Linked DNA regions of Homo sapiens. The protein of the gene in region 1 interacts with the protein of each later gene in a pairwise test. Each region holds a gene or a part of one and is shown in the gene's direction. Other genes may lie near its edges.

Region 1 (7,669 bases):
TATGATCTATGGACTGTTCTATATAAATATTACACTTCACTAAGAGTTTTGGTAAAGTCAAAAATCAGCAGTCAGCATAAAACAAAACCCAACTATATGCTGTTACAAGAGACATGCCTTAAATATAAGCACACAAAAAGATGGAAAGTTACAGGATGAAAAAGATACCCTATATAAACACTAACCAAAGAAAGCTGGAGAAATCTCTACATCAAAGTAGCCATTAAGGCAAAAAGCATTGCTAGAAGTAAAAAATGACATTTCAAGGTAATAAAGGGGTCAAGTCACCAGGAGGATATAACCATTCTAAATCTGTATGCATTTAATAATACAGCTTCAACATATATAAAGCAAAAATGACAGAACTGAGAGATGGAAAAATCCACAGTCATTCAGTACAAGAAGCAAACAGTGAAGATATTAAAGATTTGAACAGCATGATTGACAAACTTGACCTGACATAGCTGACCTGCAGGATACACACTCTGTTCTTTTCTTTTTTTTTTCTTTTTTTTTTTTTTTTGAAACAGAGTTTCACTCTTGTTGCCCATGCTGGAGTCCAGTGGCACAATCTCGGCTCATTGCAACCTCTGCCTCCCAGGTTCAAGCAATTCTCCTGCCTCAGCCTCCTGAGTAGCTGGGAAGACAGGCGTGTACCACCATGCCTGACTAATTTTTTTTTATTTTTAGTAGAGATGGGGTTTCACCATGTTGGCCAGGATGGTCTCAAACTCCCAACCTCAGGTGATCCGCCTGCCTCAGCCTCCCAAAGTGCTGGGATTACAGGCGTGAGCCACCACACCTGGCCTTTTTTTTTTCTTTTTTTTTTTTTGAGATGAAGTCTCGCTCTGTCTGGCCCAGGCTGTAGTGCAGTGGCGCGATCTCAGCTCACTGTACCCTCCACCTCCTGGGTTCAAGCAATTCTCCTGCCTCAGCCTCCTGAGTAGCTGGGATTACAGGCACATGCCACCACATCTGGCTAATTTTGTATTTTTAGTATAAACGGGCTTTCACCATGTTGGCCAGGCTGGTCTTGAACTCCTGACCTCAGGTGATCCACCCAACTTGGCCTTCCAAAGTGCTGGGATTACAGGTATGAGCCACCACGCCAAGCTACTCTTTTCAAATACACATGAAGCATTTGCTAAAATAGATGAAATCGTGGACTATAAAGCAAATCTCAACAAATGTCAAAGAAATGAAATCATATAGAGTATGTTTGTATGTTTTCTGACTACAGTGAATTAAGTAGGAAGCAATAATAAAAAGATAGCAGGGGGCCGGGCGCAGTGGCTCACGCCTGTAATCTCAGCACTTTGGGAGGCTGAGGCAGAGGAATCACAAGGTCAAGAGATCGAGATCATCCTGGCCAACATGGTGAAACCCCGTCTCTACTAAAAATACAAAAAAAAAAAAAAAGTTGGCTGTGGTGGTGCGTGCCTGTAGTCCCATCTACTCAGGAGGCTGAGGCAGGAGAATCACTTGAATCCAGGAGGCAGAGGTTGTAGTGAGCCCAGATCACGCCACTGCACCCAACCTGGCGACAAAGCGAGACTCCGTCTCAAAAATAAATAAATAATAAAAAGATAGCAGGGAAGTCATAAAATATTTGGAAAGTAAGCAATATATCTCTAAAAATTATCACTCAGGTCAAATTAGAAAATATTTTGAATTGATAATAATGGAAACGTGGCCAGGCATGGTGGCTCATGCCAATAATCCCAGCACTCTGGGAGGCTGAGGCAGGCAGATCACTTGAGGTCGGGAGTTCGAGACCAGCCTAGCCAACATGGAGAAACCCCCATCTCTACTAAAGATACAAAAATTAGCCAGGTGTGGTGGTGCATGCCTGTAATCCCAGCTACTCGGGAGGCTGAGGCAGGAGAATCATTTGAACCCAGGAGGCAGAGATTGCAGCGAGCCAAGATTGTGCCATTGCACTCCAGCCTGGGTGACAGATCGAGACTCTGTCTCAAAAAATAATAATAATAATAGAAATGTGGCATAACAAATGTGTCAAGTGTAGCTACAGAAGTTTTTAGAAGGCAAATGATGGCTCTAAACGCATGTATTAGAAGAGATCTTTAAAAATCAAATGACCTGGCTGGGCACATGACCTGGCATCAGCACGGTGGCTCACGCCTCTAATCCCAGCACTTTAGGAGGCCAAGGCAGGCGGCTCACCCGAGGTCAGGAGTTCAAGACCAGTCTGGCCAACATGGTGAAACCCCGACTCTACTAAAAATACAAAAAATTAGCCAGGCATGGTGGGGCACGCCTGTAATCCCAGCTACTCAGTAGGTTGAGGCAGGAGAATCGCTTGAACTCGGGAGGCACAGGTTGCAGTGAGCCAAGACCGCACCACTGCACTCCAGCCTGGGTGACAGTGAAACTCCGTCTCAAAAAAAAAATCAATGGCTTAATAACCTAAAAATATCAGTGACCTAAGCATTCACCTCAAGAAGTTGGGGGGAAAAAGCTGGAAAAAGAACAGCAGATCATGCCGGGCGCGGTGGCTCACGCCTGTAATCCCAGCACTTTGGGAGGCCGAGGCGGGCGGATCACGAGGTCAGGAGATCGAGACCATCCTGGCTAACACGGTGAAACCCCGTCTCTACTAAAAATACAAAAAATTAGCCGGGCGTGGTAGCGGGTGCCTGTAGTCCCAGCTACTCGGGAGGCTGAGGCAGGAGAATGGCGTGAACCCGGGAGGCGGAGCTTGCAGTGAGCCGAGATCGCCCCACTGCACTCCAGCCTGGGCGACAGAGCGAGACTCCGTCTCAAAAAAAAAAAACAAAAAAACAAAAAAAAAAACAGCAAGATCAGGGGCTTGAGGGCACATGGCTGTAGTCCCACCTACTCAGGAGGCTGAGGTGGGAGGATTACTTGAGCCCAGGAGGTGGAGGCTGCAGTGAGCTAGGGTCACATTACTGCACTCTATCCTGGGTGAGAACCTGTCTCAGAAAGAGAGGAGGGGGGAGGGGAGGGGAGGAAGGGGAGGGAGGAGGGGAGGCAGTGGACGCGGAGGGGAAGGGAGGGGAAGGGAGGGGAAGGGAGGGGAAGGGAGGGGGAAGGGAGGGGAAGGGAGGGGAGATAAAGGGAGGGGGAGGGGAAGGGAGGTGGGAGGGGAGATGAGGGGAGGAAAGTGGGGGGAGGAGAGGAGCAGAGGGGAAGAGAGGGGGAGGGGAGGGGAAGGTACGGGGGAGGGGAGATGAGGGGAGGGGAGTGGGGGAAGGGGAGGACAGGAGCAGAAGGGAAGGGAGGCGGGAGGGGAGGGGAAGGTACGGGGGAGGGGAGATGAGGGGAGGGGAGTGGGGGAAGGGGAGGAGAGGAGCAGAGGGGAAGGGAGGGGGGAAAAGAGAGATGGCACAAATTATTAATATCCGTCACCACAGATCTTACAGATATTAAAAAGATTGGGCATGGTGGCTCATGCCAGTAACCCCAGCACTTTGGGAGGCCAAGGTAGGAGGATCATTTGAGGGCAGGAGTTCGAGACCAGCCTAACATAAGACCGTGTTTCTCCCCCTCCAAAAAAAGACAATATTATGAACTTTATGCAAATTATTTGAAATTTTAGATAAAATGGAAAAATTCCTTGAAAACCACAACTTACCAAAACCACAACTTACCAGAAATAAAATAGAACATCTGAATAGTTGTATTTTTATAAAAGAAATAGAATTTGTAATTTAAAGTCTTTCCACAAAGAAAACTCTAGGTCCAGATGGCTGGTGACTTCTTCCAAACACATAAAAAATAAATAACATCAATCCTACACTAGCACTTTCAAAGAATAGAAAAAGAGAGAACACTTCTCCACACATTATATCAGCATAGCCTTGTTAACAAAACTCAACAGGGATCTCACAGAAAAGAAAAGAAAAGAAAATATGGCAATACATAAAAAGGACAGGCCAGGCGCTGTGTCTCACGCCTGTAATCCCAGCACTTTGGGAGGCCGAGGCGGGTGGATCGCCTGAGGTTGGGAGTTCGGTACCGGCCTGGCCAACGTGGTGAAACCCCGTCTCTACTAAAAATACAAAAATTAGCCAGGTGTGGTGGCGGGCGCATGTAATCCCAGCTACTCGGGAGGCTGAGGCAGGAGAATTGCTTGAACCCGGGAGGCGGAGGTTGCAGTGAGCTAAAATTGTCCCACTGCACTCCAGCCTGGGCGACAGAGCGAGACTCCATCTCAAAAAAAAAAAAAAAAGAAAGAAATGGGGGACGGACAAGGAGTCTCTCAGTTCAATTCCCCCTTCCTCAGCCCATTTCACCAAAGCCTGAAGCGGAAGAGAAAAACACGAGCCCCAGCATGGCGGGCGCAGCCACCCCCTCCTTCCACCACCAGACAAACTCCGTGGCCACAGCCCACACCGCCAGCGCGCATGCGTGACACGCGTCGGCCGCCGGTTTGCACCTGCGTCTTAAGAGGAGTCCGGGCGGGGAGGGGCGGGGCTCAGACGCTGCGCACGCGCACTCGCGACCCCTCGCCTCCTTTTGCTTTTTCTGGCGGGAAAAGCTCACGCGCACCTCCCCCAACTCAACTGCCGTTCGTCGTTCGTGGATGTCCGTTGTGTCCCGAGACTAGGACGTGGCTCCAGGTGCGCCCTGCCCCGCGGCGAGGTTCCCAGAATGGCCCTTCCCAGCCCCTACCGAAATCCTAGCGAAGCCCCCCCATATTGTGGGAGAGATACCCCTGCGTCAGGGCCCCCCAGATCCTGACCACTTGGGAGGCCGAGGCGGGCGGATCACGAGGTCAGAAGATAGAGACCATCCCGGGGAAGTGAAACCCCGTCTCTACTAAAAATACAAAAAATTAGCCAGGCGTAGTGGCACGCGCCTATAATCCCAGCTACTCAGGAGGCTGGGGCAGGAGAACTGCTTGAACCTGGAAGGCAGAGGTTGCAGTGAGCTGAGATCGCGCCACTGCACTCCAGCCTGGGTGACAAGAGTGAGACTCCGTCTCAAAAAAAAAAAAAAAAATCCTGACCACATCCCCTCAGATATACTGAAAGGAGTCCACCAGGAAATCTTATAGTTGACCCCCGAAATCCTGTCAGAATCGTCTAGAAATTGTCAGACTTCTCCCTCAGAGCCTGCCAGAAACTTTCCCCAAAATCCTATTACTCTCCCCAGATCAGCAGAGCCACCTAGACTCGTGTCAGAGATCCCCAGAAATCCTGGCAGGTCCCCTCCCAAACCCAGTCGGACCTCAGATTCCGTCAGAGAGCACAGAAGTCCATCAAAGACACCCCAGAAACGGAGACCCCGAAATGCACTCAGAGACCCCCGCAGAAATCAAGACCCTCCAAATCCAGCCAGAGACCCCCAGAAATCCAGTCAGACCCCTGCAGAAATCAAGACCCCCAAAATCCAGCCAGAGACCCCCAGAAATCCAGAGACCCCCGCATAAATCAAGACCCCCAAAATCCAGAGACCCCGAATAAATCAAGACCCCCAAAATCCAGTCAGAGAACCCCCAGAAATCCAATCAGACCCCCGCAGAAATCAAGACCCCCGAAATCCAGCCAGAGACCCCTGAAATCCAGTCAGAGACCCCCACAGAAATCAAAATCTCCAAAATCCAGCCAGACACTCCCCAGAAATCCAGTCAGAGACCCCCCCAAAATCCTGTCAGAGCCCTTGAAAGCCCGCCAAGGCCCACACCACCCAGAGCTCCTGCCAGGGCCCCATCCTGCTTCAGTGTCCCCGTCTCAGTCCCGTCAGACCCCCGAGATCAACCAACACCCCCGGGGTCCCTCAGGACTCCATCCCGAACCCACTCCGTGCGCCAGGGCCCAGCCAAGGCCATCGCCCCCCTTTGCACCCTGCAGGGTGTTCCAGACCCTGGAAGGGCCTCTCTTCAAAGACCCGTGTTTCCAGAACGGTGGCAGCGGGCTCACGTGGCTTGGGGAGAGCAGGCACTGGGGGAGCTGGGTGAGGACAGGCGAGCCCAGGCTCGACTGGTGGCCCCAAGGGGCGCCCGTGCCCGCTGTGATGATAGCAGCGCCCAGGTCTCTCTCTAGCCCCCAGAGTGCGGCCACTAAGGTTTTGGGTCGGCCTGGGTGGAATGGAGGCAGGATGGGGCCCCCCAAACTCCTGTCACTGCTGCAGGGACTGCCCAGAGCAGCTGCAAGTGGGGCTGGCAGGGATGAGGAGGAGGTGGCCTGGGCTTGGGGGACCATGTACATCCTGAGTTGGAACCCAGGGGAGCAGCAGGTTTGGGGCCATGATGAGGAGAGACCTAGGGGTTGCCCGACGGAGAGAAAAGGGACAGGAAGAGGCAGGAGCTTCAGAGACTACTCAATGCCACTCTAGCCTGAGGGACTGGAACTTAGTCCGGGGGCATTAGGGAGCCATGGGAGGATCAGGAGCAGGGGCAAGTCAGGATCAAACTCCCATGAGAAGCCAGCCGGCCAAATCCAGGCTGATGTGGCAAGAATGGCAGCTGCCCAGGGCTGTGTGGGAGCCAGACACGGCCCCTCGCTTCCCGGAAGAGGCCACGTGAAGCCGAAGCAGGATGCAGGAGGGCGTCCCAGGCAGAGACCTGGGCATGGGAGCGGTCCGCAGCTCAGAGTGGCTGGAGCATCATGTGCGATTTGGGGTGCTGAGGTGGGCGGTCAGCCATGCAGGGCCTTGGCGTCAGGGCCAGGGTCTCACCCGTACCCAGGATTCAGGGAGCCATGGAAGGGTACTTAGCAGGGGAGGGGCAGGTCAGCTCTGGGGCCCTGTGGGGACAGACTGGAGGACAAGCCTGGGGATAGGAGGCTGGGACAAAGGCCAGGGAAGAGGACCAGGCAGCCTGGACCGGCGGCAAGCCATGTGAAGAAAGGGAGGCAGTGACCTCCCCCACCCACCCACTAGCCCCTTTGATGTCAGCCACCTCGTTCTCCAGCCCACACCTCCAATCCATAAAACAGGTCAGAGCGGAGCTGCTCAGGTCACAGCGGGGGTGACAAACAGGTTGTGAGGACCCAGAGGTCCTGGGGCACAGGTGGGGCTAGGCAGGCCCCGACCCTTGGTGGCTGCTCTGAGGACACCATTTCCTGCTTCTCCTTCCAGGAGTGCTCGGGCCAGCTGGTCCTTTTCCCATCCCTCCCCATGAAGGAGGGAGGCTGGTAGCTTTGCCAGCAGCTGCGCCGCGGCAGGGGTGGCCCATGGACCTGCCCGAGGGCCCGGTGGGTGGCCCCACTGCGGAAAGTAAGTGGCTGGAACCCTATTTGCCCCGGGGAGGGTGAGGAGGGAGCCATGGGTGAATGGGTGCCAGGCTGTGACTCGGGGACTTGGGAGAGGTGGCTGGGGGTGGCTGAGCCTTTGCATGGGTGCAGAGTGGAAGGGAGGGAAGGGACTCTGGTAGATTAAGTGCCTACTCTATGCCCGCCCACCTGTCACTACCCCTTATCTCCTGTGGGGAGGCTGGACTGTGTGAGAGCGCAAGCAGCCGCACCCCTTACTCCATTCAGATCGCGGCCCAGATGGCACTTCTTACTTTATGTAAAGCAGCTGCCCTGTGACACTCTCTCCCCTGCCCCGCTTCATTTCTCTTCACAGTGCTCACATCTGTATGTCATGTTTTGTCTCTGTCTCCCCTGCTAGAGCATGAGCTCCACAAGGCAGCGTCTGTTTTATTCACTCTGGTATTCCCAGTCCCTAGAGCAGCGCTGTC
Region 2 (7,931 bases), on another chromosome or scaffold:
TAATAAAAAGAGTTTATATTCACTGGATAAAGAAGATAGCAAAAATTACCTATAATCTCACAACCCAGAGATAACTCTTAGGTGCATTTCCTTCAGATTTTTTTTTCTGTGCATGGGTATTTAACATAATGGGCTTCCATATTCAAACTCAATTCCACAAATATTTATTGAGCACCTACTACATGCCAGGCACTATTCTAAGCACAAGGAATACAACAGTGAAGAATATAGACAAAAGCCTCTGTTCTTGTGCGCCTTATGTTCAAGTTGGAAGAGATAAAAAAAATGAGAAGTGATACTGTATATAAGGAAGCAGTAAATGCAATGGGGGAAAATGAAGCAGGGAAGGAGGATGAGGAGTAGGAAGAAGGTGGTGTGAGATTTGAAAGTAGCGAGGGAATGACCCATGAGAATGTCTGGGGAAGGGCATTCCAGACAAATGGAATGACAAGTACAGAGGCCCTGAATTGGAAATATGGCTGCTTGTTCAAAGGGCAGCAAGGAGGCCACTGTAGCTGTAGTAGAGTGACCAGGGAAGAAAGTGGTGAGATCCTAATGTCTTAAAGGTAAGGGTGGGTAGAGTACCGCAGATCCTGTAGGGCCTTGTAGGTGCTATAAGGACTTGAGCTTTTACTCTGAGTGAGATGGGGAGCATCTTTGGATACTTAGGCTGTTTCCAGTTTTTTGCTATCATGTATCATGCTTTGTGATTCTTCTACTCAAATCTCTGTTCACATCTCTGAACACTTCCCTAGGGGAAATTCCTGGAAGTTAAATTTCTTGGCCACAGGCTAGGAATAGTTTGAGGCTTTTATTGCATATTGCCAAAGGACTTTCTAGAAAGCCTAGACCCTTTTACAATATAATTAAGTTCAACAAATATTTATTGCATGCCTACTATGTGCCAGACATGGTCTAGGGGCTTGAAATACATTGGTGAACAAAATGAATCTTGCATTCTAGCAATTTCACTCTTGCCAATTGTGTCAGAGTGCTTGTTTTACTCTGTGCTTGCCAACACCAAGTATTACCATTCTTAAAAAGCTCCAAGAAACAAGAGAAAAAAGAACACTCCAGTCATTTGAATGATGAGAAATGGTGCATTGTTTTTATGTTCCTTTGGATTTATTTGCTTCCTTACTAGGCTGAATTATTTCCCAAACATTTTCTAGCTAATCAGCCAATTGTTCTATTTTTCTCTGAAAGCTCTTTAAAACCTTTGAAAATAATTAAAAGGAGACAGAAAGTTTGAAAACACTAAAAGACTTAACATGTATCTTGGGAAATAAGTAGTCCTTGGGTCAAGTACATCGGCTTTAGGAATTGACTTGGAGCCAAAGAGCATATTAAGGCAACTCTCATGTTCTGAAGGGGGCTTTTTATTCAGGAGCACTCTTGCTTATTTCCAGATAACTTGAGAACTGCCACCCTGGAGGAGACCATTCCACTCAGCATTGATTCTGACATGAGCCTGAATGATGGGATGCTTTTCTTCAACAATCTCTACATCCCAGTGTTAGCTAATAGCCCACTTTATTGAACATCAAATCTGGTTTGCAAGCATTTATATTTTTAAACTGTATCACTTCTTGAGGTCTTAAGTTGCACAAGTTTTCTACCCTCCTTGTGAAGCAGGACTTCCTTTAATCCATTATCCTCCAAGGGGACACAGAGGTGTAGCAGAAGAGACACTGGACTACGATAAATGAGAATTATTAATCCTCCCCATCCCTCCATGAAAACACTTTCCCCAGATTTAATAGCGGTTACCTTTGAGGAAAGAGAATCAAGAGTGAGGAGAGGGACTTCAGTTGTCTTCTATATCTTCCCATAGTTTGAATTTTCTAACTTTAGACAAATATTACTTTGAAAAAACATTCCAGCAGGGGTTATCTGGGTGGGGAGCTAATGGCTTGGTTTTTGTTTTGTTTTTTTACTCTGTGTCTCTCTTTATTGGAAAAAAATGATAAAACTTTTATTATATAAAATTTCCCCCAGTTTTATAAAACAAAATGTGTGTGTGTGTGTGTGTGTGTGTGTGTGTGTGTGTGTATGTTGCATGTCTGCAAGAATATAAGCCAAACTGCTAATGTATGGGCCTGATTTAAGTACTGTTTGGGGAACTTGGAGAGGGAGAAAGGAGTTTCATTTTTTACTTTATACACTCACGTATTGTTTAAGTTTGTTATAGTGAACATGTATTATCATTCTACATTTTTTTTCAGAAAATAAATAATAAACCATTTTCCCCCCTGAGGTTAAAAGTGACACATGCCCATTGTGGAAAATGTAGAAAGGTATAAGGAAGAAACTAACAATCACAACAGTTAACATTTTAGCATATTTCTTTCCACGCTTTGTTTTATGAATTTTTTGACATAGTTGAGTTCATACTGTATATAGTTTTGTATCCTGTTTTTCCCTCAAGATTAAAACACAAGCGTTTTGCCATGTCATGATTTTTGGTAAAAGAATTTACCAAAACAGTTTTAGTTAAAAGAAGGTAGATTTATTAGATAAAGTAGGAAAATATGTTGTCAGAGAGACAAAGGGCAGCCTGCAAGAGAGAAGCCAACTGCCAGGAGACAAAGGCTTGCTGGAAATTTTATAGGATGGCGTTTATGCTGTCTGTTGAAGAGGTCTTTGTGTAATATTGATAATGCCAAGGTCGCAATGAGCTAACTTACAGGTGTCTGGTGATAGCTGGGCATGGGAAGATTGTGAATTATTTGCGCAGGAAGGCTGCATCTTGGTCATGAAGAAAGGGAGATTTGTAGCTTATTTGCTTTTTCTTTTTGCTATTTCATGCTCCCACCAGCCTGATTCCCTTTCCCTAATTAGGACTCCAGAATGATGATATTTGAATGGCCTTTTAATGGTTTTGTCACAATTCAAGTGAATTAATTCGCCATTTTATTTGAAGTCGGACATTTAGGTTGTTTCCAGTTTTTCTGTATTAAAAATGAATCTCTGCTGAGCATCTTAGTAATGAAATATTTGTCTGCGTTTCTGTCTCCTTGGGATGGATTCCTGAAAATGGAATTACTAGGTCAAAGAGCAGATTTCTAGAAGTGGGATTAATGGATAGAAAATATTTTTATGGATAATAAAAGGTTATACCCAACAGCGTATGTGAGTCTCACCACTCTCTCGCCAATAGTGTGTTATCCTTTTTTTTTTCCCTTTTATCTTTCCTGTAGAAAAGTAGTAGGTGACAGCGGCATCTCCATGCTTTTCTTTTTGTTACTAATGAGACTGAACATTTTTCATATGCTTATTCACCACTGGCATGCTCTCTTTTGTGAACTACCTGTTCCTATTTTTTCCCATTTATTGACTAGAATCTTATACATTTTCTTATCAATCCAAATGATCTCTCAAATAAATATTAACCCTTTGTCATATTAGTTGCAAATGAAAATATTTTATAAGTTTATTAGCTTTCTAAATTTTCTTGGCCATACATGTTAAAAGAGATAGATTCTAACTATAGACAAGTGCCCTCAGTTTGAGCCTGTTTCTCCATGATTAAATTGAAGAGTTTTGACAAAAGATTTGGAGGGGCTGTTTCAGCTAATCCCAAATTTAGCTCTGAGAAAAATGCCTGGGCCCGATACAAAGATTGTTTGGCTCATTGCACTTTATAATGATTTAAGAAGATGTGGGGGGCAGGGATGGAAGCAGTTTTTGCCAGAAATTTTTAGAATTCTGAGGTAGGAAGCCAATCTTTACTCAAGTCTCTTGCGTGTTGGGAGGAGGAGTAAGTTATGTGCAAGCCAACAGAACACTTGGTGGAAAAGTACTGCTCTGGGCTGCAGATGTGTGCACGGCTTGGTTTTAATTATTTGTTTCCCTCTCTATCCTTTCTTCTCCTCCCCTCCCCCCGCCACCAGAAAAAGGGCCAGATTAGGACGAGGCAACCCCTTCCTCCGTGGAGGTCTGCTTCTGTGCAGCCTGTTAGCACATCAAAGGCCGGATGAAATACCTAGGAAAGGAAGGGACCAGGCCTAGGATCCTTCCAAACTCCCGCCTTTGTCTGGGCTCCAGCTCAGGGTTATTGTGACTGCCAAGGGTAGCCTGACAGACTCCAAATAGAAGAACGCTGCCAAACAAAGAAACTTTCACATTATTCTGAGGGGGGAAAAAAGAGCAACAAGAGAACGTTGCTTGTTAATGCCTGGTGACTGAGCAAATCAGTAATTGCAAAAGGGTTTTTCGGAGAACAAACCCAAAGTTAACTGGGCGATCAGATTCGTTTCCCCAGATAATAGGGAGAGTTGTGCACTGACTTTAGCAATCCCGGGGGTGTCGGTCCCACAGCATCTGGGGGAGAATTGGGGAAGGGCCATCAAGGAGAGCGAATGGGGGTTCCCAAGGTGAAAATGAGTCGTGTAGGGCTCTAACATAGAAAATGGAGTTCGAAGAATGAGTTTCCTGTCTCCTAAGACAGCTTGGAGGGCCCGGGAACGGCAGGGGGAAGATGAGGGGCTTCAGAATGGGAGGCAGGGAAAAGCCTGCAGCAACAGAAAGGGAGTCGGTGTCTGGCGCGCATCAGGTGGCGGAGGGGCGCTCGCACAGAGCCCGGCAATGCCGAGGCCCTCCCAACGGGTCGGTCTGCGAGGAGCAAAAAAGGGGTTCAGAGGAGGGCAGCGCGTGCGTCGCGCTCAGCTATAGGATGGCGCGAGGATGGCGTGAGGCTGGGCTGGGGCCTCCCAGGTAGAACTGAGGGGGGCACCGCGCGGCCGCGGGGGAGCGGCGCCGGACTCTAGAGGCTTTGGAGGGGGCCTGAGGGCTGCGGGGCGGGACCGAGCAGGGCGGGGCGCTTAGGTGGCCTCGGGGGAGGCGGGGCTTGGAGGCTCCGCCCCTCAGGCCCCGCCTCCTCCCCGGCTAGTCTTTGGCCGCCGCCGAACCCCGCGCGCCACTCGCTCGCTCAGAGGGAGGAGAAAGTGGCGAGTTCCGGATCCCTGCCTAGCGCGGCCCAACCTTTACTCCAGAGATCATGGCTGCCGAGGATGTGGTGGCGACTGGCGCCGACCCAAGCGATCTGGAGAGCGGCGGGCTGCTGCATGAGATTTTCACGTCGCCGCTCAACCTGCTGCTGCTTGGCCTCTGCATCTTCCTGCTCTACAAGATCGTGCGCGGGGACCAGCCGGCGGCCAGCGGCGACAGCGACGACGACGAGCCGCCCCCTCTGCCCCGCCTCAAGCGGCGCGACTTCACCCCCGCCGAGCTGCGGCGCTTCGACGGCGTCCAGGACCCGCGCATACTCATGGCCATCAACGGCAAGGTGTTCGATGTGACCAAAGGCCGCAAATTCTACGGGCCCGGTACGCGGCCGGCGAGGGGGGCTTGGAGACAAAAGAAGGGGGCCCCGGCACGGGGCTGGGCGGGAGAGAGGCGAGGCGGGAGCGGGGCGCCCCTGAGTGGAGGGAGGAATGGCGGCGAGCTAGGGTAGGCGGGTAGGCGGGCAGGCGGAGAGCCGGGAGGCTCCCGGGGCGGGCAGGGAACAAGAGGCGCTCTAGAGGGGCTGCGGGCCAGTCAGGGACGCGGATCCCCGGCCCGCGCTGACAGCGCTGGGAGGGGGTTAGAGAAAGAAGGCTGAGGCGCTTAAGCCGGGGGTGGGTGGGACCACGAAGCTCGAAGGCGTTGAGGGGGGACACATCAAAGCCCAGGCTGTTGGGGTAGTTTTCGAAGGTCCTGGGCTTGGGGATTCCTGGAAGGAGGAGGGGGTAGTGTCGGGTTCTAGGAAGGAAATGAGGGTGTTCCGAGGGAGGCATGGGGGAGGGCGAGAGTGAGAAAAGGTCCAGACCTAGAGAAGACGGGAAGGCCAATGACACCGGGAGTAGGTTTGAAATATGAGGGTGTGGGAGAAAACGCCGAGACGGGATTAGCAGCAGGTAAAAGCTTTGTGCCCGGTGGATAGTGATGTGTGTGTGCACTCGTGGTGTGTGCATGCGCGGTGTGTGCGTGTTTAGTGTATGTGATTTATCAGGGGTGTGTGTGTGTGGTGTGTGCATGCGCGCTTGAAATGGGTCATGCGTCAGGTATGTGTGTGGCATGTGTTTGGTCTGTGTGCGCTTGTGCTGTGTGTGGCAGATGGGGAAAGGCTGGAAGGTGAACAAGGAGGAAGGGGGCTGTTTGAGGGAGGAATAAAGGCTGAATATGGTGGACAATGGTAACGTGGCAAGCTTTTAAGGTAATATGGTATTTAGTCTATAGCAGGAGAGAAAGGATTAGAAGCCAAGAAAAATTAAAATGGAGGGAGGGAGAAGTGGGAGGATACCAAGAAACAAAAGGAGTAGAGCTAAGAAGACTGCTGGGTGGGGGGATATCAGGAAAAGCCAACCAGAGGGAAATGAAGAATGGATGACTGCTGCACTGCTGAGCTGTTGGAGAAGGCAGGCCTGATGGGTTCCTTAGAGGCGAGGTTTTTGCAAACCTGGTTGCGTATCAGAATCACCTGATGCATCTGAGGAAAAATACAGATTCCCAGTCTAACCGCCAGAGCTGCAAATGAGTCTCGGGTGGTCCGGGAGTCTGTATTTTAATATGCTTCCCAGGCGAATTTGAAAAGCAGCCAGGCTTGCAAAGTCCTGCTTTATAGAATACTTGGAGATGAGGAAGAAGAGGTTTTGGCTCCTCCAATATGGACTCCTCTAAACACAGGGAGCTTAGAGGATGTCCACATGGACGGTGCTCATTCCACACTGGCCTGAGAGAGGGAAGAGTACAGAAGGCAGTACACAAACTCAGGCATTCATTTTAGTCTCCCAGTCCAACTGATCAAAATCAGATGTGTTAAGGTTAAGGAGCTCAGTTTTTTCTTGCAGACATTTATTTATTATAAAAAATAAATTTTATTTATTTTTTAGAGACAGGGTCTCCCTCCTGTGTTGCCCAGGCTGGTCTCGAACTCCTGGGCGCAAGCAGTCCTTCCACCTCCATTTCCCAAAGTGCTGGGATTACAGGCATGAGCCACTGCACCGGGCCTGTGGATATTTTAGAATACCTGCTTTCTATAGGCATGTAACTGTCAAAATCATTTGAAAACCACATACATTATTTGTCACTTAGAGTAGCACACATAGTTGCTTTATCAATAAACATAATCATGTAAATACCTGTTAATATTGAGCTCAATATTAAAGGAGTGAAAACATGTGCATGAGGCATCATCATGACTGTAGTTTGCAGAGTCATTGAGAGGATGTCAGCCTGTGCACAGAGCACAAAACTGGGAGTCAGGCAACCTGCGTTCTAGTCCTGATTGGGTCATGACTAGCTGTGTGACCTTGTGCAAAGCATTGTTCTCTCAGAGCCTTAGTTTTCCCTCTGAAAAGTGATAAAGATGGCCTATTGTGAGATCTCTGTCTCTATCTTGCACTGTCATTCAGTGAGCCCATGACTACGTGACATCTTGGTAGAAAGTGATGCTTCATGTTGTAAAGGATTCCTAAAAATTAGTCATTCTAGTGCCTGTTAATTCTGTGCAAGGCACTGTTGTAGATGTGGGAATATAGCAGTGAGCAAAACAGACACAAATCTCTGCCTATGGAGCTTACGTTCTAGTGAATATATGTTGCACTGAATAATATGTATTTTTAAAAGACTTTTAATGTTCCCACTAGAGAACATTTAATTGTTTAAATGTTTAAATATTCTATGAGGTTTAAATATTCTATGTTTAAATATTCTATGAGGTTTGCTTGGTAAAGACTCACTCTACCAAGCCAATGACCATAATTTCTGAAATGGTAAGGTTCAAACCATTGCATTTGCCTATTCTCAAGCACTAGGTGCTGCCATTTCCACTAGGGGTGTACATTTATGAAAAATGTGGGCTTTTTTTTACCTTCTTTAGTGAATGTGGCAGCATGTAATGATGATTAAAAATAAGCATTTTTCTTTGGAATTTTACTTGCATTTAAAAG
Region 3 (7,663 bases), on another chromosome or scaffold:
TGAGCTAATCACCTTCCAAAGGCCCTACCTCCTGATTCCATCACTTAGGGCTTAAGATTTCAACCTTGAATTTTGCAGACACAAACATTCAGTCCATAACACAGAGACTGAGAATATTCGGGCAGGGAAGTAACAGCAACAGAAAAATAGAAGGTATGACTAAATTTGAAAATGCTTCAAATCGCTGCAGTGGTCGTACTTAAAATTTCCGGGTGACAGTGTCCCATAGGTGCAGGAAGAGTTTGCCTCTTTCTCACAGTTAGAGGTGTAGGAGGTTAGACATGTGCAACTAACTATGGAGACAACAGTTGTCACTCAGAACCCAGGTGCTGTAGCTCAGGTGGTTTGGATGGGAGGCAGGCAAAGGCTTCTGTATTGGGACAGATGAGCAAGGCAAGTACGCTCTTTGCCTCTAGCTGCAGAAACCAACTGACCTGGCCTTGGAGGAACCCGTGGGTGATTTACAATATCCAAGAGGTATGGGATATGAAAAACCCAGGTACTGATGTTGAGGTGAAGTGAAGGTGTGCTTCAATGCTTAGTCGGGAGATGGCAAGAGGAATTTAGAGGGCAGTCTGGTTCTAGGTCTCTGGGCAGATTCCATCTAGTAGGGTCCAGAGATAAACCTGAAGTTTGGTGTCTCCTGAGTCCATTCACCCCTTGTGATGGTGGTGGGGAAAGGCTTCTGGGCACTGTTATGGCTCATTAGTCCAAACTTTCTCTGTGGAGGGTGTAAAGCTTCTCTTTTTCCCCCCAAATTAGTACATGCTACCTTTCAACACTTCAGTTGTTGCCTTTCTGCATTTGCGTAGAAGTTTGCCCTGTTTTCCATTAGTTGCCATTTTTACTAGTTTGGTTCTGCATTTTGTCAACAGGAATGATTTTGCTGCAGATTGAAAACATAAGTATTTGGCTGAAAATTCTGTAATTGGGGGTTTTGATCTTCTAAACCACAATAACATGGCAAAATTTAGGTAGTTCTTGATATAGGATAGGCTTAGGGAGTGAGAATGTTGATTTGGTGTTCAGGTCAGGCTGAGGAATAACCTTAAGAACTCGAATCCAAGTATGAGTTGCTAGAGTGGGCTACATGAGATTGTAGGTACAAGGGCATAATCATGACCCTGGAGAGAATTTGAGTTGCCTATGTTCTTTAACTTGTACAATTTCTCTTGCTTGGAAATCACTCCCTTTTCTTCAACACTAATTTTTAAAAAAATAAGTATTTTCTCCAATAGTTATTTAAGAATTTCCTTCACAATTCTTATTAAATCAATCCACTCATTCATGCATGCATGCATTCATTTATTAAATATATTCCTCAGTGTACAAACGTTTATTAGACACCAAATGCCAAGCACTGGGCTAGGTGCTGGAGATTGAAAACCAATGAAGCCATGGTCTCCATCCCTAAGAAGCTCAGCACCTGGCAAATTCTTCACACTTCAACCCATCTTGGGTCTCTGGAGTCTATCCAGTCATTTCTCAGTATTCATTTAACTGGTTTTGTGTTCAATTTGTGTTTATTCCTAGTATATTCCCTGAAGTGGCCTGCCTTCCGTAAGTGACTAGGCATTTTCATTAGAAAAAATTATGCATTCTTCTTTCCTTATCATCATAGGGCCTGATGTTCTGCACAGAGTAGGCTCTAACACACACTGTTAACTGAGGGACCACTTTCCAGGGTAAATAAATGGGGTCAGCTGATTATTACTTATATACACGATTGTTGATATTGCTAATAGAAATTTGAGGGTTGTTGACGATGTAGTCAACTGATATGAAAAGCCTCTATTACCAATCTGTAGACCAAACACAGCCTCTGTTTTCCTCATATACACCAGATACCCCATAGATACCCTCCTGCAAAAATGCAGCAGTATGTTTGATTTTTAATGACAGGAGGATTAAATTAAAGTTATGTCTACACGGATGTCTTCCTTGTGTGTTGCAACTGTTCAAGAAGTACGGTTTGGGGAGGTCCCCTAATGAAGTGCATAAATAGTAACTTTCTTTCAAACTGTCAGTGAAGATTGCTGTATTACTCATGTGAATTTCGGTGACCCCTTACTCTAGAAGGAGCCCAGGGTAGAACACATTTTTACAAATAATACACTTTGCTTTGCAGCTCTGATAATTTTGTTCCTGTCTTTGAGTCTGTCATACAACCAGGAGGCTGCTTGTTTCTTAGGACAAAGGTATTTGCAGGGAAACTGATCAAACTATTTTTATTAATAATCTCATTATTATTAATAATCTCATTACGGAGGCATCACCAATGCTTTTGTGCATTTGAGGGCTACCAAATAGATTAAAGTTTTATTCTGGAAACTCTGGAGCCATACAAGAACAAAGAAGCTTATGAGCACAGTGGGTGGTGGTTCTTCCCTGGCTAAGGCACATTTGTGCTTGGGAGAACTGCTGTCCCATTTCTGCAGTATTGCCACCCCTCTGGTAAGGGGTCTTCTAATGAATTGGCCATAGGAGACCTTAAAGGTAGTCATGACTACAGGCTATACCACTGTTAATGAGATTTTCTTTCTGACAGGGCACCAACATGCTCCTTGAAAAAAGGTACAAGGAAGGCTCATTACAGCCACATGCAGAGGCTACTAGCAAATGAGAACAGATTTGCCATTTGTTTTGGTGGGAATCGGGAGGAAGAGGGGAATTGTGCTGGGAGGTAGAGACACATTCTTCTCCTTATGTCCATATTCATTGCATTCAATCTTAGAATAATGGATTCAGTCTCCCAGTTTTCATTCTCACACATTCTGTATGCATTCCCTGCCTTGGACTGGGGATCTAAGTGGTTAGAACATTTGACCAAAGAGGCCAAGGCTGAACTGCTTCCCACAGAGAACAATGAACTTTACAGCCCACATTTCTCCCTATCTGTTCTTCTTCACTCTCTATCCATCCATTTGTGGTTTTCCTGTCTCCCCTTCCCCCTCCCCACCACCCCAGTTTCTGAATAGTGTACCAGGGGTTTAAGACCCTGTTTCTCACATTAGCACTGTGCTTATTCTGAGAGTTTGTGTGGAGCTTCTGGGGTGGGGTGGAGTGGGGCATGAACCTTCTCTCCTTGTTTTGAACCCAGCAATCTTACATATTGATCTAGTCTTTAGGAAATTAAACAAACAATGAAAAAGCTGACATTTTTATGGCACGTCAAAAGTCATAAGCAACTTCCCATACAATATTTCATTTAATTCAAACAATTTAGGAATTGTTACAACCCTAGAGGGGCTAAGTGACATGCTCAAGGCCACCGACTCATTGTGACACAGCTTTTTTGTTTGTTTTTGTTCTTTTGAGACAGCCTTACTCTGTCACCCATGCTGCAGTGCAGTGGTGTGAACATGGCTCACTACAGCCGCAACCTCCCAGGCTCAGGTGATCCTCCCACCTCAGCTTCCCAAGTAGCTGGGACCACAGGTGCATACCGCCACACTTGGCTATTTTTTTCATTTTTTGTAGAGACAGGGTCTCACCACATTGCCCAGGATGGTCTCCAACTCTTGAGCTCAAGCCATCCTCCCACCTTGGCCTCCCAAAGTGCTGGGATTACAGGTGCGAGCCAGCATCCCCGGCCCAGAGCTGGGTCTTAATACCGAGACTAACACCTTTTTCTTTCTCCAGGGAAGAAGGCAGAGGTCACAAAGGTGTGTGAAATGTTGAGCAGGGCAAATGGATCCTGGAGCCCAGGGTCAGAGCTGCTGAGCAAGAGAAAATGCATCTTATTTCTCAGTTTTATGAAGAATAAGCTTGAGATCTTGAATGCCTGGCTGGCTCACAAGAAGCTCAGGGGCAATAGAGGTCAAAGTTTTCTGGAGAGAGAAACTGCTCCTGGGGTCCTCCTTGACTGGGTTTGAGGCAGTGCCCTGGCCTGGGAGAGCGGGCACTGGGTCATCGGGATCCCTTTGTTTATTTGGGTGTTTTCTCTTCCCTATATGAAGCATACAGTGGTGAGTACTTGATAGGGCAGAGTCCTACCTGGTTGGCCAGGGAACAAAACGTTGCTGGTCTTTCCTTCAGAGTGGGGTTGTTAGACAACTTTGTCTAGAAACAGTCACTGTAAGGAACAGGTCAACGACAACTTGGGCAATAGGAACTGAAGAGGGAAGCTCAGTCGCTCCTGGAGGAGAGCCACAGTCCCTAAGGCAAGTTCCCTAACTGTCTGTGAAAAGTAGTATTCAGTAAAATGGGGGAGAGCACTAGAAGTGCTGTGAGGCAAAGGACTGAGGGTTGCTTTTCCTCCATGGAGCCTCCAAACTCTGTGTCATCCACAAAGACTACTTTGGTCTCATCTCTTTCAAGGAAGTACCAAGTGGGAAACCAAATATTGGGCTTTACAAAGCACATTTGAGTTAATGTTTGGCAGGGGATATCTGGATCCAAGGGCAGCTCACAGAGTGGGCCTCACTGACAAGGTGTGGGCCATGACTCAGATTCCTGGGTGTCCTGAACCTCCTGGGGCAGTTCACACGTTCCCTGGCCACTCCCTCTTTTCCTACATGCTGGCCATGGGGAAATCACCACTGGGCACTATAAGAAGCCCCTGGGCTCTCTGCAGAGCCAGCGGCTCCAGCTAAGAGGACAAGATGAGGCCCGGCCTCTCATTTCTCCTAGCCCTTCTGTTCTTCCTTGGCCAAGCTGCAGGGGATTTGGGGGATGTGGGACCTCCAATTCCCAGCCCCGGCTTCAGCTCTTTCCCAGGTGTTGACTCCAGCTCCAGCTTCAGCTCCAGCTCCAGGTCGGGCTCCAGCTCCAGCCGCAGCTTAGGCAGCGGAGGTTCTGTGTCCCAGGTGAGGAGGCCCCAGAATCTGAATGAGCTGCATTCATTCCCTTCCATTTGCTTTTGGGTACCTGAATACAATTTCATGGATGGCTAGACCTGGGCACTCTAAAAGATTTACGACTCATTTTGTTAACTATAGGTGCCCCGGAAATGAATTAAAGCCTCAGTAAAATAATTAAATTGTTAGCAAGAGAGACGATATCGCAGTTCTCCAGCTGGGACTTTTGGGAATATCTATGCTTTAGAGGAATTCTCAAATCTGGCTGCACATTAGAATGGGTGGCCGGGGGGACTCTAAAAGTACAGATGCCTGGGTTCTGTACTTAAAAAAATCCTACATAGATGTATACAAATCAAATATTTTAAAAAACCTCTCCCCAGGTGATTCTAATATATAGTCCAAGATGGGAACTGTTAGGGAAAGACTCTGTGAGTTGCAGCTCTGGGAAGTTTGTCCAGTTGTTTTGCTGCCTGGCAGGATCCCGGAATGGTGAACAGTAGCCCTCGAGGGAGTGAGAGCCGCAGTGCCCTAGTTGAAGCCCTGACCATTTCTCTTGGCCTGGTTTATAAAGGAGGTGGGTGTCAGAAATAAGGGGGGAGTTACTGGTCTTTAGCAAAGTGTTATTACCAGTGGACATTCGCCTAGGGGAGTGTTCACTCTTTGCAGTCTTCTTTACAGGGAATCTTCAGGACCATTTCCAGCTCCAAACAACAGTAGCAACAAACAAACAAAACCAAAAGTCATGCATTACAACGAGGCTGGTACAGCTAGGCTAAGTGCATTGAAGGCATAGTAAGCCAGTTCCGTGGGGGATGAGTCCTCTTTGGATCTCCTTTAAAGAAAGGAGAATGGGCTGGAGGGCATGAGAGGTTAGGAGGTAAGAAGCAGTTATTCATTTCACTCTGGGCCTTTCTGCGGGAACCCCACTCTGCAAACCTCCTAGGCTATTTTTGCTAAGGTATAACTTGGGGTGGGGGAGTCTTATCTGGGCCAAAGCTTCTCTCTCTAAGCCTCTAGGATCTTTCCTCACAGGTCAGGTAGCTGCTTACATTATCATGCTTGAATGGAAGGGCAAATGGGAGAAGGGGGAGGAAAAGACTTTTATTTGTTTTATTTTGACCATCAGAAATTACAGATAATAAAAATGTGATAATTAACAAATGATTTGGATAGGGCCTAGATAGAAACAGCAGCAATAACATTTACTGTGTGTCTAATAAATGCCAGGACTAGGTTAAGTACATAATATATATCTTTTTGTTGTTGTTGTTGTTTGTTTGTTTTTTGAGACAGAGTCTCATTCTGTCACCCAGGCTGGAGTGCAGTGGCACGATCTCGGCTCACTGCAACCTCCGCCTACCAGGTTCAAGCGATTGTCCCACCTCAGCCTCCTGAGTAGCTGGGATTACAGGCACCCGCCACCACGCCTGGCTAATTTTTGTATTTTTAGTAGAGATGGAGTTTCACCATGTTGGTCAGGCTGGTCTCGAACTCCTGACCTCATGATCTGCCTGCCTCAGCCTCCCAAAGTGCTGGGATTACAGGCATGAGCCACCGCACCTGGCCTGTATTATCTTATTTAACCCTAAGAGGTAGGTACAATTAATGGTCCCATTTTAGAGATGTGAAAACTAAGGCTTATCAAGGTGAAGTCATTAGTTTTAAGTCACTAAGCTAGCAAGTTATATAGCTCAAAATTAGTCTGTCCATTCTCTTCACCATGTCTGTACATATAGGTTTCTATATTTCCAAGGAGTATAGATGAAAATTGCTTATTTTTTAGTTAGAGGAGGGAGGCTTGGGAATCATAAGTAGGCACAAGGATTCTTTGCAGTCAGAAATCAGTTACATAAGTTTATTCTGTGATACTCAATGATTTCTGGGGATGATCAGAATTGTCTAGCACTCTTTTTTGGACTGAGGTTAACAATAATAATTTATTATGAAGCTCCATCACCAGTCAGAAACCAGCATTTGGGTAAGATTATCAACTATAATAATAGAAAATAAAATACAGATCAAGAAACAGAGAAATCCAGAATGCCTATTGTCTGGTAAAAAGACAGATATTTAAAAGTAGATGAGACATGGTAGTTAAATTGGACTTAGAGGTTTTAATTTTCCTTTTTACTTATCTCTCCCTGGTGAGTCAGTATCACAACTCCAACTTTTTTTTTATACTGGACTAGGAGTCAATTTCACTATCAACCTAATTTTCTGGGGCTGGCTGTCAGCTTGATGAGCTCTTTGGAAGGTGGTAGAAAACCCTTTTATAACTGTCATTGAGTAAGTTCCAAACATATCATTTTCTGTACTTTGAAAATGTTGAGTACCATTATTTTATACCTTGAATCTTTGCTGACACTTAGCCTTGGCTACTAATTAGAGCCAGTTGCAACATTAAATCACCTTAAATGTGAGTTGCACCTTCTGCTGTAAGCACTCAGAGTACTCTCTGCCTCAGACGTCTCCCTCCTGAGGAGGGGCCTCTGCAGGGTCCTCAATTCACAAGACTAGGAAAAGCCTCAATGCTCACTCCACAGAGTAACTGGTATAGTTGGAACTGCAACGAGTCACGTGTTTTCTTGTCATCAGGCTACAAGGCTGGTTTGAAAAAACAAGTAGGGCTTTCAGAGTGACAGTGGGCCTGATTCCTGGGCAGAAATTGAGTCTTAATCATCTCCCTAAAGCCAGAACCTGGCATAGTGTAGACATCAGTAAATGTTAATTGAACACGTGCTTAGGGAAAACCTACCAATATAAGGTGTCTTGTGAGGTACTCAGGGTCCTATTTGCCCTACAGAAGGGGAATCGCATATTCTTCCAAAGGCCAAGGGGACAAGCTCTTGTCTTTGTCTCCC
Region 4 (7,851 bases), on another chromosome or scaffold:
GGCCTAGAGCCACTCGCAGATGGGGTCCCCAAAAGGGATGGGCAGGCGCAAGCCCAGGGATGGGATGGAGATGGGTGCTCTTTGGCAAATCCACTCCCACAAGCCCGCTGCGGCCGACTGGAGGAGGTCCCCAGGAGGGGAGGTGCCCCCGCCGCCTACCTGGAGGCCGCGGGCGCGGGGCTGGCAGGGCGCGAAGTGGCGGAGGGCGTCCCTCTGCAATTGGATCTGCACGTGGCGGGGCACCCGGGGCAGCTCACCGGGACGGAAGCGGCGCACGACAGCCAGCTCCAACCCCAGTGCGTCGGCGAAACGCACTCTCTTGCGGGTGTCTGGGCTACGGCTGCGGGGCGCCCGGGCCCCGCCGCCTCCGGCTGGTGCAGATCGGGCCCGGCGGCCCCGACTCGGTGCGTGAGCGCGGGATCGGGCCCCGAACCGCGTCCCGCCCTCGCCTGGCTCCTCCTCCGGCTCCTCCTCGAGGCTGGGCCGCTGGCTACGGTAGTAGGCGCGCTCCGTTAGCGCGGCGATGAAGCTCAGGTTGCGGGGAATGTCGGTGCCCGGGGGCCGCTCACGGGACATGGCAGCCCCTTCCCCGGCGGGGCCAGCTCGCAGCGCCACCGCGCTCCCCTCTCTTCCTCTCTCCCGCCCGCCCCGCGTCAGCGCAGAAGTCGCTGGGTCCGCTTCTGCAGCCCCTCGCTGCTGTGTATTCTCCTTGCAGACACCTCCAGGATCCTCCACCTCCCGTTGCTTTGCCTCTCCTCTGTGACCACCCTTCCCTCCCTCTGGCCGTCAGCTTCCAGGGTCTTAGACTATCACATCCTGCCTCCTGCTAGCGGTCTGCTCTGAGCGTGCGCTCAACTGCACTCACCCTCCGGTTCCAAGGCCCTCACGGCCCGGGCGCCCCCGCCCACAGCCCTCTGACAGGTGGCTCCGCTTGTCTTCGCTGCTGCACCAGGGGGCGGGGACTCCACCTTTGCGGTCCCGAGTGAAGCTACTCAACCTTTTAAAAAAAACATCCACGGACGGGACGCGATGGCTCACGCCTCAAATCCCAGCACTTTGGGAGGCCGAGGTGGGAGGATCGCTTGAAGCCTGGAGTTCAAGACCAGCCTGGGCGTCATAGTGAGACCCCTGATCTCTACAATAATAATAATAATAAAATGTAAAAAGTCCTCAACTTTTCCGGCACAGCACAGGAAAGGTTAACGCCGGGAAGAAAAAATAACCTTTCATTTTCTTGCAGGGGAAGGTTCAAAACGCCCAGCATGTGACTTTATCTTTGGGGTTCACTGTTTTCTTTTCTGAAACCTAGGCTCCTGGTTTGGGCAGGGGGTGGTGGTGCGTGCAAAGAAGGAAAGGTCATGAAAGCTAGGTAGAGTCTTTCAAATAGAAGGTGAGAATATGGCACCCGAACTGAGAACTGCAGGAAGACCTAGCTTCTAGTGACCTTGAGCAAGCAAGGCATAACTTCTCTGGAGTCAGTGTTCTCGTGTGTGTGTGTGTGTGTGTGTGTGTGTGAGTGTGAGATGGAGTCTCGCTCTGTCGCCCAGGCTGGAGTGCAGTGGCGTGATCTCGGCTCACTGCAACTTCTGCCTCCCCGGTTCAAGCGGTTTTCCTGCCTCAGCCTCCTGAGTAGCTGGGATTACAGGCGTCCACCACCACGCCCGGCTAATTTTTGTATTTTTAGTAGACACGGGGTTTCACCATCTTGGCCAGGCTGGTCTTGAACTCCTGATCTCAGGTGATCTGCCCGCCTCGGCCTCCCAAAGTGCTGGGATTACAGGTGTGAGCCACCCCTGAACTCAGAGCCATACTCTGAACTCAGTGTTCTTATCTGTAAAAAAGTGGTGGAGTTCTGATTTCTAATCCAAGTGTAAGCCCTTTGAGGGCAGGGGCTTTGTCTGATTCATGGTGAGTTTTAGTATATGGTAGGCACTCAAATTATTGAATGAACAAGCACCCAACAACTCTCTTGGAGTTGGGACTGTGGAATTATAGGTCCAGTGGGAGCTTCCAAGAAGGGCAGAGCTGGCTTTTTCCCCTTTCATTTTTTTTTTTTAACATTAGTGAAAAAAAAAAGTGAAGTTGTTTTTAGTTTTTTTCTAACTTTCCTACTGATCTAATATAGCACTTACAATGTGCTAGGTACTGTTGTAAGGGTTTTACAAATACTAACCCATGTAATACAACCATCAGAGGAATAGAGACTATTATGTCTAGTTTAAAGATGAGAGAATTGAGGGAGAGAGGGGAGAGGACTCTTACCCAGGGTCACATAGTTAATAATTGGGGAGGTGGGATTAGGACCTAAACAGTTTAGCTCTAGAGTCCACGCTCTTACCCGCTTGGTTATATAAGATTAAAACATTTAACAATAATAGTTAACATCCTCAGAGTGTTAAAAGAGGGAATATTAGAGTAGAAATGAAGTCTCTAAATTTAAAGCAGCAGGATAGTTTAACTGTAAAACCACAAGTGACTAAGTTGAAAATAAACCATGAGACACATGTTATCTTATTATTATACAATTCATTCCTGTTTACATGCATTCGCACTAGTATTGACTGTAGCAATACTAGTTAGCTAGGACTCATTTTTAAAGCAATATTGACTTTTTAAATTTTACACGTATATAGAATGCATGGATGTATTCTCTTCGTATCATTATATGTGATACAATATATACAATGTATATATTGTATATGCATATACAATATAATATATATAATGCATATAAATTAATGTCTAATAAATCATACATTAATTTATGTTACAATCAAGCTGGCCCAGGAGTTTGAGATCAGTCTGGGCAACATAATGAGATCCCTATCTCTATAAAAAATGAATTTAACCAAGCATGGTGCAGTACACCTCTAGTCCCAGCTACCAGGGAGGCTGAAGTGGGAAGATTGCTTGAGCCTAGACGGTGGAAGCTGAAGTGAACTGTGCTTGTACCACTGCACTCCAGTTTAGGCCATGGAGTGAGAACCTTGTATCACAAACAAACAAATAAACCAGGAGTGCAAATGAAGACTTGGACTAGGTTATTCTCTAAAGAAGAGGGCAACCTTGCTGGTGGCAGCCAGAATGATCAGGCTAAGAGCAAAAATGAAATGAGGATGGTTGAAAGGATACAGCCATAAAGGAGTGTAATAGGCTGTGTGTTTAGAATAGAGGAGAGAATTGAGTATGGACTTGTAAATGGTGTGGATTCAGACTATGAGAACCATATTGACTATGTGAAGGCAAGAGGTGATCTTGAAGCGATAGTGTCAAAGTTACAGCATGAGATGGCTGTGCTAGCTTCTTACATATCAGCCTATGGCTTTGGGAAAATCACTTAACCTCTCCAAACCTCAATTTCCTCATTCATAGAATGAGGATAAAACAGCATAAGGACTGGTGAGAGGAAAAAATACACATGTAAAAAAAGCACAGCATCTAATAACTCCTCAAAATATGTTAGTTTTTACCTTTTTTTTTTTTTGAGATAGAGTCTCGTTCTATCACCCAGTCTGGAGTGCAGTGGCATGATCTCAGCCTCCTGGGTTCAAGTGATTCTCATGCCTCAGCCTCCTGAGCAGCTGGGATTACAGGCTGGCTAATTTTTGTATTTTACGTCTGGCTAATTTTTGTATTTTTAGTAGAGATGGGGTTTTGCCATGTTGGTCAGGCTGGTCTCGAACTCCTGGCCTCAAGTGATCCACCCGCCTTGGCCTCCCAAAGTGTTGGGATTACAGGTATGAGCCACCGAACCCAGCTAGTTGTTACTGTTATTGCTGCAGAAAAGACCTTGCTTCTCCAGTGACCATAAGGGAAGATGGTAATACAGAGGCTTGGATTGGAGGTAGAAGCAAAGGGAGCTAGCAGAATAGGAGAATTAGGTTGCCTCTTTCTGGCCTTTGGTTGGGGCACTCTTTAAAAAAGTGCCAGATCCAAGAGCCCAGGGGGCTGGCTGTGAGTGCCCTCATGTGGATCAGCTATGGTCAGACTGCTTCACGCCTGTGACCTGCCCTGTATAAATATACTGCCATGTATAAATAATGGCCCCATATATATGTAATCTGGAAGGATAAACATCAAGCTTAACACTGGCAACCTGCAGGGAGGGAAGTGGAATTGGGTGTGTATGTGTGTGTGTGTTTGAGAACCTGTATTTTATTACTCCGCACGTCTTTATTGTTTGATTTTTTTCATAATGAGAATGAGTTTGTGTGTTGGGTAAAAAAAAGAAAAAGAAAAAAACCCCACTAAAATCAATCTAATTACAAAAGAAGATGAATTAAAGAAAAGTACCGAGAGAAACTGCTTGTGATCCAAGTCCTGGCTCCCTAATGCCTGGCTGAAGCCCAGCCCACAAAGAGAACACTGGGTTAAAGGTCCTGGAGAAAAGATGGGAAAGGTTTGGTGTCTATGTGGTGTCTGCTAGCCCCATAAGGGTAAGGCACCTGGTAGACGGTTCCCAGCTTAATGGGAACTGCTCCTGTTTTCCAGGCACACAGTTCAGGGCTGGAAAAGTTCAACAAGTGCATGGAACATCGGAAACCTCCTGAAAATGCTAAATTTGCCCCGAGATGTCCCGAAGTCCGGCATATTTCTCTGGGCAGCCTAGAGGCTCAGGAGCCCAGCCCAGCCCAGCCCACCGTGCCCTCTCAGCCAGCCCTTCTTTGCCTTCAGCAGCCCTCCCTCTTCCTGAGTAGTGGCCCTTTGCAGGCCTGCGTCCCAGCCCCGCCCCTCTCTCTGGACGCATCTCTGGGCCCCATCATCACCCGGCGCCGGGCCCTCCCTCTGCCCCCCCCTTTCTCCTCCCTCCTTCCTTCCCTCCCTTCCTCCCTCTCTCCCTCCCTCCCAGCTCCTGCACCAGGAAACGGCCCGGATCCCGGCAGCGGCCTGACCCGTGAGATCCCTAACCTGGCAGGCGGGCGGGGTTGGAGACTGGCTGAGGTGGGGGTAAGGGAGGAGCTGGGCCTTTGGGCTGCACTAGGGGGAACCGGGAATAGAGATGGTGTCGGCAGGAAGCCCTTGGCCTTGGGTTTCCCGGGAGGACAGTCATTAAACATGGATTCGGCCACACAGCTGGTAGAGCGTTGGGGGCAGGGGCCTAGGCCCAGAGCTGCAACCCTAGCCCTTCCCAGGCCAGAACCTGATCCCTGGCCTTCCCCTCCTGGTTCTGATCTCCCCCTCCCCTTTCCAGGGCTCCACGCTGGCCAGGAGGATGAAAGGCCCCAGCTGGGGGCTCCTTGCCACCAGTGCTGTGTCTTAAGAGCTGCCATCCCGGCTGGGTGAGTGTCTCCTTCCTTTCTCTGTCTGGAGTAACCCATTGCGTCTCCCACCTTTCTCTTCAGCCCATCTGCTCCCCCTCATCTTGTGTCTCTGCCAACATCTTTACATCTTGCATTTGGGGAGGTCCTAAGACCCTTCCTCTAGCCAAGAAGGTGTGGACTAAGGAGACCCGGGGGTGGGGGTGTTGTAGGGGTGTCATTGAGCTGACGTTGTCTTATTGTGAAAAGAATCTAAAGTATCCTAAACAGAAAATTTACTTGTTTTACATTTAATTTGGCATATTAGGAATGTAATGGCCAGCCACTCACAGCCTAGTCTCATATCATGACTTAATTCCCTTGTTCTTGCCTCTCCCTGTCCAGTGAGTCCTGAGCATTTCCTCTCTCCTCCTCATCTCACTGGGTTGGTCAAACCAGAAGTGCTCCTTCTGATTCTCTCTTCATATATTCATGCCAGTCTTTCATCCTTGCCTCTTATAGCCGCCCGGATGGCGACCCCAGCCTCGGCCCCAGACACACGGGCTCTGGTGGCAGACTTTGTAGGTTATAAGCTGAGGCAGAAGGGTTATGTCTGTGGAGCTGGCCCCGGGGAGGGCCCAGCAGCTGACCCGCTGCACCAAGCCATGCGGGCAGCTGGAGATGAGTTCGAGACCCGCTTCCGGCGCACCTTCTCTGATCTGGCGGCTCAGCTGCATGTGACCCCAGGCTCAGCCCAACAACGCTTCACCCAGGTCTCCGATGAACTTTTTCAAGGGGGCCCCAACTGGGGCCGCCTTGTAGCCTTCTTTGTCTTTGGGGCTGCACTGTGTGCTGAGAGTGTCAACAAGGAGATGGAACCACTGGTGGGACAAGTGCAGGAGTGGATGGTGGCCTACCTGGAGACGCAGCTGGCTGACTGGATCCACAGCAGTGGGGGCTGGGTAAGAAGCTTCTCAATTGCCGCTCTGCACATCCTTCTGCAAAGCTGGTCTCCAGGGGGAAGATGGGGGCTCTGATTGGAGGCTGAGGCAGCTATGTTGGGAATGAGGTACGGGGCTGAGTCTCCCCGTCTGGATGGAATTAGATTGAGAGATGCCTGGACTCTGCACTCCAGGGCTGCCATGCAGTCAACACTGGATGGGCTCATGGTCCCAAGCAGAGGACAGAATACACACCCAAGGAGTGCCTGCAGGGGAATGTTGTCAGGGACTTTTTACATCTGAGTCATGGCGTGGGAGGTGGGGAGGACCAGGGATGGGTGGTGGTCAGGCAAGCCTTGGCAAAGGATGCTAGTTCTGAGCAGAATTTTTCGCCAAGGAAAGGATGGAATTCACTGGAGGCAGAGTGGGCAGATGAACCAGTCTCTCAGGGTGGGGGTGCACCTGGGGGGATCAGAGGGGCTTGCAGGGAGAAGAGCTTTGGCCAGAGAGGAGCTGGGTATGGGGTAGTGCTCGCAGTGGATGGAACTGGAACTCTTCCTCTCCTCTTCTCTCCACTCTTTCCTCTCCTGATATCCCTTTCTCCTTCTTTCTCTCCTGCTTCCCTTCTCTCCCACAGGCGGAGTTCACAGCTCTATACGGGGACGGGGCCCTGGAGGAGGCGCGGCGTCTGCGGGAGGGGAACTGGGCATCAGTGAGGACAGTGCTGACGGGGGCCGTGGCACTGGGGGCCCTGGTAACTGTAGGGGCCTTTTTTGCTAGCAAGTGAAAGTCCAGGGCCAGGTGGGGCTAGGTGTGGCTGGGGGCCAGGAGAGCAGGAACAGAACAGAGAAATGCCCTTGGAAGAAGTGGAGTTGGTGGATGGGTGGGCATGGAACAGGATGGGCAGAGAAAGGGTAGTGTGTGAGGGAGCTGAGTAGGCCAGGTAGGCGATTGGAAGAGTGAGCAGGACACAGAGGGGAGGGGAATGTTTTGGCAAGTTTAGGGGCACAGGAGATGTAGTCGTTCCAGGGCTGGGGGAGGTGGGAGGGATCACGCCTATAGGTGTGGGCACATGAAACGACCTGGAACTTGCTTCACAGCCCTGAGGAAGGTGGACTTACATAAGCAGCTGTATTCCATTAGATGAGTGGGATTTAGGGAACGCAGAAGGCACATCCCTTTGGAATGGAAGCTTAGGGGTTCTCAGGTGATAGGGAGAGGTGGCTGTTAACAGTGGGCTGCTTGGACACGCGTGTGCATGTGCACGCATGCTGGTGTGCATGCTGGGCTGCCTGGCAAATCTGGTGGTGATGGGATTCCTCAAGGAGAAAACATTCCCTCTTGCAATGGCAAGAACTAGGGGCAGTTCTCTGTCCCTCCTCCCAACCCCTCCTTTCCCCTGCCCTTGTCCTGATGCCTCAAGGCTTAGAGAGAAACATTGTATCCAGACCGAGGGCTCTGCTGCTTCTTTCCAGAAAGTGATTGGCAAGGCTTTGGAGAGAAGAGCAGTTCTGCAGCTGGCCTTGTTCCTTCATCATCCCCCTTCCTTGTGCATTATGCACTTGCTGCTGCCTCCTGGGCTCTGATAGAAGGGCAGGGCTGTTGAGCCTGGATGGGTGGAGGCTTAGGTAGCCGGACCTGCCTGCCACCCTCCTCTCCCACTCAGGCACAAT

What was found.
Region 2: the proteins of KASH5 (region 1) and PGRMC1 interact in binary tests that used the Homo sapiens proteins (3 or more experiments, as listed by UniProt).
Region 3: the proteins of KASH5 (region 1) and OLFM4 interact in binary tests that used the Homo sapiens proteins (3 or more experiments, as listed by UniProt).
Region 4: the proteins of KASH5 (region 1) and BCL2L2 interact in binary tests that used the Homo sapiens proteins (3 or more experiments, as listed by UniProt).

The regions. Positions count from the first base shown.
Region 1 is NC_000019.10:49,383,724-49,391,392, forward strand, and holds the start of KASH5 (protein KASH5), read left to right. Parts: upstream 1-4,525; 5' UTR 4,526-4,604; exon of another isoform or gene 4,605-6,615; intron 6,616-6,854; exon of another isoform or gene 6,855-6,923; intron 6,924-7,065; 5' UTR 7,066-7,160; coding exon 7,161-7,203; intron 7,204-7,669. UniProt on the Homo sapiens protein: As a component of the LINC (LInker of Nucleoskeleton and Cytoskeleton) complex, involved in the connection between the nuclear lamina and the cytoskeleton.
Region 2 is NC_000023.11:119,231,365-119,239,295, forward strand, and holds the start of PGRMC1 (membrane-associated progesterone receptor component 1), read left to right. Parts: upstream 1-4,920; 5' UTR 4,921-4,999; coding exon 5,000-5,327; intron 5,328-7,931. UniProt on the Homo sapiens protein: Component of a progesterone-binding protein complex. Binds progesterone. Has many reported cellular functions (heme homeostasis, interaction with CYPs). Required for the maintenance of uterine histoarchitecture and normal female reproductive lifespan.
Region 3 is NC_000013.11:53,024,233-53,031,895, forward strand, and holds the start of OLFM4 (olfactomedin-4 precursor), read left to right. Parts: upstream 1-4,580; 5' UTR 4,581-4,604; coding exon 4,605-4,808; intron 4,809-7,663. UniProt on the Homo sapiens protein: May promote proliferation of pancreatic cancer cells by favoring the transition from the S to G2/M phase. In myeloid leukemic cell lines, inhibits cell growth and induces cell differentiation and apoptosis.
Region 4 is NC_000014.9:23,302,001-23,309,851, forward strand, and holds the start of BCL2L2 (bcl-2-like protein 2), read left to right. Parts: upstream 1-4,832; 5' UTR 4,833-4,894; exon of another isoform or gene 4,895-4,947; intron 4,948-5,191; 5' UTR 5,192-5,279; intron 5,280-5,759; 5' UTR 5,760-5,767; coding exon 5,768-6,199; intron 6,200-6,815; coding exon 6,816-6,965; 3' UTR 6,966-7,851. Other genes in the region: PPP1R3E (protein phosphatase 1 regulatory subunit 3E), read right to left, coding at 160-576; BCL2L2-PABPN1 protein, read left to right, coding at 5,768-6,199, 6,816-6,932. UniProt on the Homo sapiens protein: Promotes cell survival. Blocks dexamethasone-induced apoptosis. Mediates survival of postmitotic Sertoli cells by suppressing death-promoting activity of BAX.